2 separate regions of the Homo sapiens genome follow, and region 1 is linked to region 2. A link means that fine-mapping ties the variant in region 2 to the expression of a gene that starts in the linked region. Tissue or cell type: testis. Region 2 holds a variant in brackets; the other region holds the start of a gene. All regions are shown on one strand. Distances are between the middles of the regions.

Evidence for each region. PIP is the estimated chance that this variant, and not a neighbour inherited with it, causes the effect.
Region 1: ABHD8 starts here. The variant in region 2 is fine-mapped to the expression of ABHD8 in testis (GTEx, PIP above 0.99).

The regions. Positions count from the first base shown.
Region 1 is chr19:17,300,311-17,305,433 of GRCh38, reverse strand. It overlaps ABHD8 (abhydrolase domain containing 8), which reads left to right and starts at 2,009. Exons shown (of 5, transcript NM_024527.5): 1 at 2,009-2,192; 2 at 3,810-4,578. The coding sequence starts at 3,818. It also overlaps a transcript of MRPL34 not described here. RefSeq lists silencers at 1,887-2,436, 2,820-3,114 and enhancers at 3,472-3,972, 3,973-4,473.
Region 2 is chr19:17,327,610-17,332,734 of GRCh38, reverse strand. ANO8 (anoctamin 8) reads left to right here. Exons shown (of 18, transcript NM_020959.3): 6 at 1,324-1,440; 7 at 1,520-1,647; 8 at 1,746-1,907; 9 at 2,231-2,383; 10 at 2,484-2,610; 11 at 2,721-2,776; 12 at 2,904-2,978; 13 at 3,752-4,573; 14 at 4,855-5,046. Among named protein-coding and RNA genes, the nearest start is that of ANO8, 4.7 kb to the left of the region's middle. RefSeq lists enhancers at 2,742-3,269, 3,270-3,797, 3,798-4,325, 4,326-4,854, 4,855-5,125 and silencers at 3,775-3,934, 4,404-4,573. The variant G/A (reference allele first, on the strand shown) is at 2,056.

The sequences.
Region 1 (5,123 bases), 27 kb after region 2:
CTCTTGGCAGGAAGCCGAGGAGGCCTGAGTTCAAGCTCGCTGCGTGTCCTTGGGGTGGTCCCTGCGCCACTCTGGGCTTTCTCAATCTGTAAACTCAGGGATTGCAAGCTTGTCTTTGGCAATCTTGCCCCCATTTTGGGCCCTAGAAGAATTCTCCTCTGTTGTTAGAACCAAAAAAAAAAAAAAAAAAAAGGAAGAAAAATTTTCTGATACTCAGATCTGAACCCCTCCCCTACTCACACACTATCCTTGGCTCCCCATTTCCCCAGGTAAAACCTGCTCAGCCCTTCCATCAGGCATGCAAAACCCTCTACACACACCATCTTACATTTCAGCCACACTCTCCTCTCTGCCTGGTGTTCCCCTATCCGCCCTTTAAAAATCCTTTCCTCTCCAAGGGCTGAGTGAGGTGTGGCTCATGCCTGTAATTCCAGCATTTTGGGAGGCTGAGGAGGGAGGATCCCTTGGGGCCAGGAGTTTGAGACCAGCCTGGGGACATGGTAGCAACCACCTATAGTCTCAAGTACTTGAAGGTGAGGTGGGAGGATTCCCTGAACCCAGGAGATCCAGGCTGTAGTGAGCAATGATAGCGCCAATGCACTGCAGCCTGGGCAACGGAGTGAGATCCTTTCTCAAAAAAAAAAGGAGTCGTCTTCTCTCAACCGCTGTCCATTCTTCTGGCCCGACTGCTTTCCCTTGACTCTCCCCCAAGTTCAAGGGCTCCTCAAGGGCCAGGGGCCTGGGGCTGTATCCCTACAAGTGCCAGCTTGGGGTTCATGCAGAGAGGTGTTTGCTAAATGAATAAACTGTATAGTCTCCCAGAAGTGCCCTTAGTGGGCAAGAGTAGGTGTCTGGACGGAATCCAGCTCTGGCAGCAAATTCCAGGGGATGTGAGTGGCCAAGCAGCAAGGAGCATTTAACCCCTCGTCCTCCGAAGCCCATCCTACCTGTAGCATCGTTTAGCAAAACATCACCACTATAATAATGCCCATAATATATGGAGCATTTGTTATATGCACGACACTATGATGAGTGCTTTACCTGCGTAGCAAACTTATGAGAGGATTAATTTCATAGAGAAATAAACGGAGGCTCAGGAAAGTGAAGTAACTTGCCCGAGGTCACACATCAGCAAAGGGCAGAGGCTGGATTTGAGACCTGAGCTCTCCTGAGGGCCTACCATGGCCCCGCCGGTACCACAGAGCTGGGATGCCTGCCTCTTGCTATCAGCCCTTCTCAGAACCATGGCAGCCATGGGTTAAATCGGCTGATTATGAAATTCAAACTCTCTAATTACCCACAGCTCCAAGACTTTCCTTGAAAGCTTTAGAGAAGCCCGTCACGATGGCTCACGCCAGTGATCTCAGCCCTTTGGGAGGCCGTAGACGAGAGGATTGCTTGATGCCCAGAGTTCGAGACCAGTCTGGGCAAGATAGCGAGACCTCGTCCCTACCAAAAGAAAAGGGGGGGGCGTAGGGGGGAGGTTAGCAAATAATGGTTCCCAGGGTTTGGAATCACACAGCCTTGGGTTCAAGTCCCAGCTTTGCTCCTTGCTTGATTTATGCTCTTGTGCCCTTTATGAGCCTCAGTTTCCCCACCGGAGATTGGAAAAAGATCTTGGAGTCTCTGCTTCTAGAATGGAAAGGTCAATACAGAGAGAAGAGTATGGGGGCCTCGTTTGGAGAGGAACAGGGCAATTGGGAGGCAGGGGCTGGGGGGCAAGGGCTTGGGAGACCCATTTGCAGAGAGAGGGCCCCGGCCGCACACTCCCAGGCGTCCCGCAGACCCTAGACTGCAACCCCCTTCTCCGCCTTGAGCCAGGCCCCATCCCTCCCCCAACCTCGGTGAACCCCCAAAAGGGGCGGGGCCGTTGCTCCCAGAGCCCGCCTCCACTACGGAATTGCCGCCTCTCATTGGGCTCCTAACTAGGCCAGGTCAGTCCGCAGCTGCGATAGGCCGAAGTGCCCGCCCGTCGGCACGTGGCTCCGCCTACTCGGGGGAGGAACTTAAAGGGCCGGCTGTTTCGGCGGCCGCGGGATGCCCCTGCGCTGACCGCCAGGGGCAGGTGCCCGCCCGCGTAGACGCACCCGGCCTGACCCCGCGCCACCATGTAAACGGCGCCAGCAGGCGGACGCTGGCTTCTCCGCCTGGGACCCCTCCGCCCCGACCCGGGCCCCGCGGCCCTCGATGAGGTGAGCGGGGAACGGGCCCCAAAAGGAGAGATCGAAGCCCCGGGGCCTCCACTTCGGAGGAGTGGTGTCCACCAACCCCGCGTTTGGGCTCGTAGGAAGCCACGGAGCCCCAGTGGGCTCGACCCCGCTGCAGGGATGACGAACACCTGGAAGGCGGGGGCCGGGGGCGGGGAAGCGGGGCTGGGGTGGCGCCTGTGCGTTGCCCTCCACAATCCGGGATTAGGGCCCCACTCGAGGTGGGGGGCATGGCCTGCTTCCCCTCCAGTATGTCTGGGGCCACTGCGGCTCAGTCTCGGGCGTGCGTTACCTTAGCGGCGCCCAACCTGGGGTAGGGGGCAGGCAGGCAGCTGGTCCCATCTCCAGGCCCTAGACACCTCGACAATGGGGGTGCACTGCTCGGGTATCCCCCCCTTAGGTTATGTAACCGCCTGTGGTTGCCATGGACACGGGGGCGGGGGTGGCCCAAGGAGTGGGATGGAGGCTTGGAGGCCCCCAGCCAGGGCCCTGCCTCTCCCATCCTCTTCGCCACCTCTGGGGACTTGTATAGCAGATCCCCAGAATCCAGGGTGCCAAGGAGGAAGTTCAGAGTCTAGCTTCCTCTCAGAGTGTCTGGGCCTCAGCTTGGCCCTCTATGAAACAGACCCCGGCTCACCCCGGTCTAGGGGAGCTGAGCAAGGCTTTCTGTGGCTCAGTCCCCATCCCCCTCTCCTAGGGCCTCACCTTTCAGGAGTCAAATTCAGAGCCAGGAGCCTCACTGGGGGCTCACCAAAGATTTGCATATTTTAGATGCCTTAGGAGGCCCTGGGGATATGTGAGTTAGTGAGTGCATACCTGGATGAGTTAGTGAGTTAGTGTATACCTGAATGAATGAGTTAGTGTATACCTGAATGGATGAGTTAGTGTATACCTGAATGAATGAGTTAGGAGGCCATAAATGGTATAAACTCCAGCTGGGGGGAGGGGGTGTCTTCCGGCTGGTCCACATTTGCCACAATGTCCCCTTCTCCAGGAACATCCCCACACAAGACGCCACCACCTTCCCTGTGGACACCCTGTGGGGTAAGCCATAGCCAAGTCTTTCTCTCTGAGGATAGACTAGGGTGACCCAGGAGGGTAACTACCACAAAGGCACTGCTCAGACAAAACATGTCAGTGCACGGTGGCTCACACCTATAATCCCAGCACTTTGGGAGGCCGAAGCAGGAGGAAAATTTGAGGTCAGGAGTTCAAGACCAGCCTGGCCAACATGGTGAAACCCCATCTCTACAAAAAATACAAAAATTAGCTAGACATGGTGGCACCTGCCTATAATCCCAGCTACTCAGGAGGCTGAGGCAAGAGAATCGCTTGAACCCAGGAGGGGGAGGTTGCAGTAAGCCGAAATCCGGCCACTGCCCTCCAGCCTGGATGACAAAGCGAGACTGTCTCAAAAACACACACACACACACACACACACACACACACAAACAAAAAAATCTCAGTGCCGTGGCTCACTTGATCTGGCGCTCCCCAAACTGGAGTCTAAAACAGTTCTCCCAAGGCTCAGGGAGTGCCTGCTGCACGGTGCAGGGTTCTCATTGAGACAGCACCTGAACTGGCTGCTGTCCTCACTCACAGGACACACCATGCTGACCGGGGTGACCGACGGTATCTTCTGTTGCCTGCTGGGCACGCCCCCCAACGCCGTGGGGCCACTGGAGAGCGTCGAGTCCAGCGATGGCTACACCTTTGTAGAGGTCAAGCCCGGCCGCGTGCTGCGGGTGAAGCATGCAGGACCCGCCCCAGCCGCTGCCCCACCTCCACCATCATCCGCATCCTCGGATGCAGCCCAGGGGGACCTCTCCGGCTTGGTCCGCTGTCAGCGCCGGATCACCGTGTACCGCAATGGGCGGTTGCTGGTGGAAAACCTGGGCCGAGCCCCTCGAGCCGACCTCCTACACGGGCAGAATGGCTCTGGGGAGCCGCCGGCCGCCCTGGAGGTGGAGCTGGCAGATCCGGCGGGCAGCGATGGCCGCTTGGCCCCCGGCAGCGCAGGCAGCGGCAGCGGCAGTGGCAGTGGTGGGCGGCGGCGGCGAGCCAGGCGCCCCAAGAGGACCATCCATATTGACTGTGAGAAGCGCATCACTAGCTGCAAAGGCGCCCAGGCCGACGTGGTGCTCTTTTTCATCCATGGTGTCGGCGGTTCCCTGGCCATCTGGAAGGAGCAGCTGGACTTCTTTGTGCGCCTAGGCTATGAGGTGGTGGCTCCTGACCTGGCCGGCCACGGGGCCAGCTCTGCGCCCCAGGTGGCCGCAGCCTACACCTTCTATGCGCTGGCTGAGGACATGCGAGCAATCTTCAAGCGCTATGCCAAGAAGCGAAATGTGCTCATTGGCCATTCCTACGGGTAAGTGAACCCTGGCATGTGGGGTGGGGGTGAGGGATGGGGTCAGCAGGGACTACAGTCACAAAATACTGAGTTTTTGGCTGAGCCCCGTGGCTCACGCCTGTAATCCCAGCACTTTGGGAGGCCGAGGCAGGCGGATCACCTGAGGTTGGGAGTTCGGGAACAGTCTGGCCAAGGTGGTGAAACCCCGTCTCTACCAAAAATACAAAAATTAGCCAGACGTGGTGGCACGCGCCTGTAGTCCCAGCTACTCGGGAGGCTGAGGCAGAGGAATCACTTGAACCGAGGAGGTGGAGGTTGCAGTGAGCCGAGATTGTGTCACTGCACTCCAGCCTGGGCGACAGAGGGAGACTCTGAGATGCCACTGACACCTGTAATCCCAGTGCTTTCGGGGGCCAAGGCGGGAGGATATCTTGAGGCAAGGAGTTTGAGACCAGCCTGGGCAACATAGGGAGAACCCCCTAGCTCTACAAAAAGTACAAACATTAGCTAGGTGAGGAGGTGCACGCATATAGTTCCACCTACTTAAGGGCTGAGGCAGGAGA
Region 2 (5,125 bases):
GAGAGGACAGCTTATCAGGACAGGAGGTCAGGGCTTATGTCCAACCAGTTAGGGGTTGGCAAAGGGTTGGGAACCAATGAGCTGAGGGGGCGAGGCTTTGGCCAAAGGGTGGGGCTTATTTCTGGGAGGTGGGTCCAGGAGAGGCCCTTTTCTGGGTTTGGGATAAAGTGGAGGCAGGAACCATGGACAGCACTCCACTTACAGAGTGGTGCGGCTCTGGGCGTTGGATTCCCCTCCAGGAAACTAGGCACCCAAGTTCACCTTCCGACAGCAAGTTTTTACCATTCCTCAGACGTTCGGGTCCACAAACTGAGCTTTATTTAAAGCAGGGGAACAGGCGCAGTGGCTCCCAGTACTTTGGGAGGTCCAGGCGGTAGCATCACTTGAGCCCAGGAGTTCGAGGTTGCAGTGAGCCATGGTAGCGCCACTGCATTCTGTCCAGCCTGGGTGACAGAGCGAGACCCTGTCTCAAACAAATAAATAAATAAAGTAAAAAATAAGGCCGGGCGCGGTGGCTGACGCCTGTAATCTCAGCACTTTGGGAGGCTGAGGCGGGCGTATCACGAGGTCAGGAGATCGAGACCATCCTGGCCAACATGGTGAAACCCCCATCTCTACTAAAAATACAAAAATTAGCCAAGTGTGGTTGGCGCGCGCCTGTAGTCCCAGCTACTCGGGAGGCTGAGGCAGGAGAATCGCTTGAACCCGGGAGGCAGAGGTTGCAGTGAGCTGAGATCGCACTACTGCACTCCAGCCTGGTGACACAGCTAGACCCCGTCTAAAAAAAAAAAAAAAAAAAAAAAGCCGGGCGCGGTGGCTCACACCTGTAATCTCAGCACTTTGAGAGGCCGAGGCAGGTGGATCACTTGAGGTCAGGAGTTTGAGACCAGCCTGGCCAACATGGCGAAACCCCGTCTCTACTAAAATACAAAAATTAGCTGGGCGTGGTGGTGGGCGCCTATAATCCCAGCTACTCCGGAGGCTGAGGCACGATAATCGCTTGAAGGTTGCGGTGAGCGGAGATCACGCCACTGCACTCCAGCCTGGGCGACAGAGTGAGACTGTCTCAAAAAAAAAAAAAAACATGGTTCCTCACCAGAACCCCACTCTCCCAGTTCCTTTACATTCTCCCCGCCTGCCCCTGCACCTACAATTTCTGAAGGAGAATCAGATCTTCTATCCGTCTAGAACTTCTCCCCTGGAAAGAGCTCTAGAGGTTTAAGAGCAGGCAAAAAGCTGTGACTTGGGTTTCAGACAAAGAGGGGCTAGCCAGGCTAGGCACAGGTGGAGGGGCGGGGATCACCTGTGCTCCTCCCTCCACAGTCCCGGAGCTGGCAGCACGTGGGATCATCCAGCAGGTGTTCCCTGTCCACGAGCAGCGTATTCTGAACCGCCTCATGAAGTCATGGGTGCAGGCCGTGTGTGAAAACCAGCCTCTAGGTGCTGCCTGGGCTGGGGGGTGGGAGGGAGTCCCAGCAGACAGGCAGGGGGTGACTGAGACCCACTTGTCCCCTGGCAGATGACATCTGTGATTACTTTGGTGTGAAAATTGCCATGTACTTCGCCTGGCTGGGCTTCTACACGTCGGCTATGGTATACCCAGCTGTCTTCGGGTCTGTCCTGTACACATTCACAGAGGCTGATCAGGTACTGGGCAGGGACCCTGCAAGGTCTGGGGGATCCAGAGGCGCCCTCCTTTCTGGACTGGCACAAACAATGACTCAACTCTTCTCTGCCACTCACAGACAAGCCGGGATGTTTCCTGCGTGGTCTTTGCCCTCTTCAACGTGATCTGGTCGACGCTGTTCCTAGAGGAATGGAAGCGGAGAGGGGCTGAGCTGGCATATAAGTGGGGGACGCTGGACTCACCTGGGGAAGCCGTGGAGGAGCCACGCCCCCAGTTCAGGGTCAGTTGGGGGCTGAGTCCAGGGTCATGGAGACAGGACAAAGGTAAATGGTGGGGGGCACTGCAGGAGCAAAGGCAGAGAGGTGTGAAACAGGATTGTTTCATCAAAGAGGGTATGCCAAACCGAGGCGGGCTCTGTGTGCTCCCCA[G/A]GGGGAGAGGTGGAAGTTGGATTTGAGGGACTGGGAACAGTGCCCTAGGTGGGTGACCTGAGAGGGTCACCTCCGCATGATGGAGGGAAATTGAGTTCTGAGGATAGGGAGGGGTGCAGAAGGCAGAGGTGGCCCCTCTGAGCTCATGCTGGGCCCGGTCTTTGCCCACCATCAGGGCGTGCGACGTATCAGCCCCATCACGCGGGCCGAGGAGTTCTACTACCCGCCCTGGAAGCGGCTGCTCTTCCAGCTGCTTGTGAGCCTCCCCCTGTGCCTGGCGTGCCTCGTCTGTGTCTTCTTGCTCATGCTTGGCTGCTTCCAGCTGCAGGTGACCCCCCATACCCTCACCCGCCCTGTCCTTGGTACCTAGCTCCACCTTGGGCTGAGCCCTGCAGCTGGGATGAGCCCTGAACCCCCTTCTCCCGCAGGAGCTGGTGCTGAGCGTGAAGGGGTTGCCCCGTCTCGCCCGATTCCTGCCTAAGGTCATGCTGGCCCTGCTTGTCAGTGTGAGTGCCGAGGGCTACAAGAAGCTAGCCATCTGGCTCAATGACATGGGTACGACCTGCCAGGGGGTCTCTGGGAGGAAGGTCTCCACTGCCCCTTGGGATCCCTGCCACCCTTGGGGGGACCGCGGCTGCCCCCTCACTCCCCCCCTTGGCCCCTAGAAAATTACCGGCTGGAGAGCGCCTATGAGAAGCACCTCATCATCAAAGTTGTCCTGGTGAGTCACCACCATCGGACAGGCAGGGGGACAACGGGGAAGCTGTGCCGTCTGTATGGGGCACAAGGAAGGCTCCAAGGAGTCGGGTGGGGGTGCAGGATGACCACCGCCTGCCTCCTTCCTGCAGTTCCAGTTTGTCAACTCGTACCTGAGCCTCTTCTACATCGGTTTCTACCTCAAGGACATGGAGCGCTTGAAAGAGGTGAGACCCCCGCCCCAGCGGCAGTCCCCCCTGCCCCCATGGCGGCCAGCGAGGGGCCAGACCCGGCACAAGGGGTCCAAGGGCTCTCCAGCCCCTCCCTCCCCTCCTCCATCCTTCTCTCCTGTCTGTCCGTCCGTTGTCCGTCGTCTGTGCGTCCTCTCTCTGCCTGTCGTCCCCCCATCTGTCCGTCCATCTGTCCGTCGGTCCCTTCACAGCTCCTGCTCGTCCTGTCCCTGTCCCAGAGCCTCGAGCGGCAGCTGCAGGCGGTGCTGGTCCCGCTCGCGGCCCTGCGGTTCCGCCTGCTCCTCCTCTCCCTCCGGGGCCTCCTGCTCGCGGCCCGGGCCAAAGTACGGGCAGGTGGCGAGCCCGTGGGTCCTCGCCGGGGTGGGCAGCGTGGCTGTGCTGGGGGCCTGGCGCGCCGAGCTGAGGGCGCATGCGCGGAGGGAATCTGGGGTCGGGGGCGGCCAGCAAGCAGGTGCAGGCGGCTGGGGGCGCACGCGGCCCAGTGCACCGACAGAGCCCGCGGTGGGGTGGAGACGCGCTGGGCCTGCCCGTGAGGTGGGCGAGGAGCGCTGCGCGTGCCAGGCTGTATTTTGTGGCTGAGCGCTGGGGGCCTCGCGTCGAGGCGCGTCCAAAGCAGCGGAGTTAGGAACCGGATTCGGCGTGTGTCTGGGCACGGTGCTCCGGCGGGGCGCCCAGGGAGGGTGAGTCCCCCGATCCCGGCGCCCCGCTTGCCCCCCACGCGCCTCTCTCCTTCCCCTTCCTGCCCCCAGATGCTGGCCACGCTGCTGATCACCCGCCAGTTCCTCCAGAACGTGCGCGAGGTCCTGCAGCCGCACCTGTACCGGCGCCTGGGCCGCGGCGAGCTGGGCCTGCGGGCCGTCTGGGAGCTGGCCCGAGCCCTGCTTGGCCTCCTGAGCCTCCGGCGCCCTGCGCCCCGCCGCCTCGAACCCCAGGCGGATGAGGGCGGGGGCGGCGGCAGCGGGGGCGGGGGCCGCAGGTGCCTCAGCGGGGGCTGCGGGGCGCCGGAGGAGGAGGAGGAGGCGGCGCTGGTGGAGCGGCGGCGGGCGGGGGAAGGCGGGGAGGAGGGGGACGGGCCTCCAGGGGGCAAGGAGGAGGACGAGGACGACGAGGAGGAGGAGGACGAGGAGGAAGAGGAGGACGAGGAGGAGGGCGAGGAAGGGGGCCTCCTGGACTGCGGGCTCCGGCTGAAGAAGGTCAGCTTCGCTGAGCGCGGCGCGGGGCGGCGTCGGCCCGGCCCAAGCCCGGAGGCCCTCCTGGAGGAAGGGAGCCCCACTATGGTGGAGAAGGGGCTGGAGCCGGGAGTGTTCACCCTGGCCGAGGAGGACGACGAGGCGGAGGGGGCTCCCGGCAGCCCTGAACGGGAGCCCCCGGCCATCTTGTTCCGCCGGGCCGGGGGCGAGGGCCGAGACCAGGGGCCCGACGGGGGCCCGGACCCGGAACCCGGCTCCAACAGCGATTCGACCCGTAGGCAGAGACGGCAGAACCGGTCGTCTTGGATTGACCCGCCGGAGGAGGAACACTCGCCCCAGCTCACCCAGGCAGAGCTGGAGAGCTGTATGAAGAAGTACGAGGTGAGGAGGGGGCGGGGCCTCGCAGGGGGCGGGGCCTCGCCGGGGACGGGACACACCGTCCGAGGGTGAAGGCCGTGGGGGTGGGAGTGGTGATAACAGGGCCATTGATGTTGGGATGCTGCAGGAGAGGAAGGCCTAGCCAGATACAGGAAGCCTCTGGGCTGGCTGAGGATGGGGACAGGCCCTGGGTCCACATGGGATAATCTGAGGGAGGCGGGCTCAATGGGAGAAAGATTGTCCCAGGGAAGAGGCTTCCAGGTCTGAGGCCCGCCCACTCGCAGGACACGTTCCAGGACTACCAGGAGATGTTCGTGCAGTTCGGCTACGTTGTGCTCTTCTCGTCCGCCTTCCCCCTGGCGGCGCTGTGCGCCCTGGTCAACAACCTCATTGAGATCCGCAGCGACGCCTTCAAGCTGTGCACCGGGCTGCAGCGGCCCTTCGGCCAGCGCGTGGAAAGCATCGGCCAGTGGCAGGTGGGGGGAAGCCAAGAGATCCGAGCTGAGGCCCAGAGGGAGCCCAGGTGCAGCTGGGAGGAGCCTGGGGTCTGGGGAG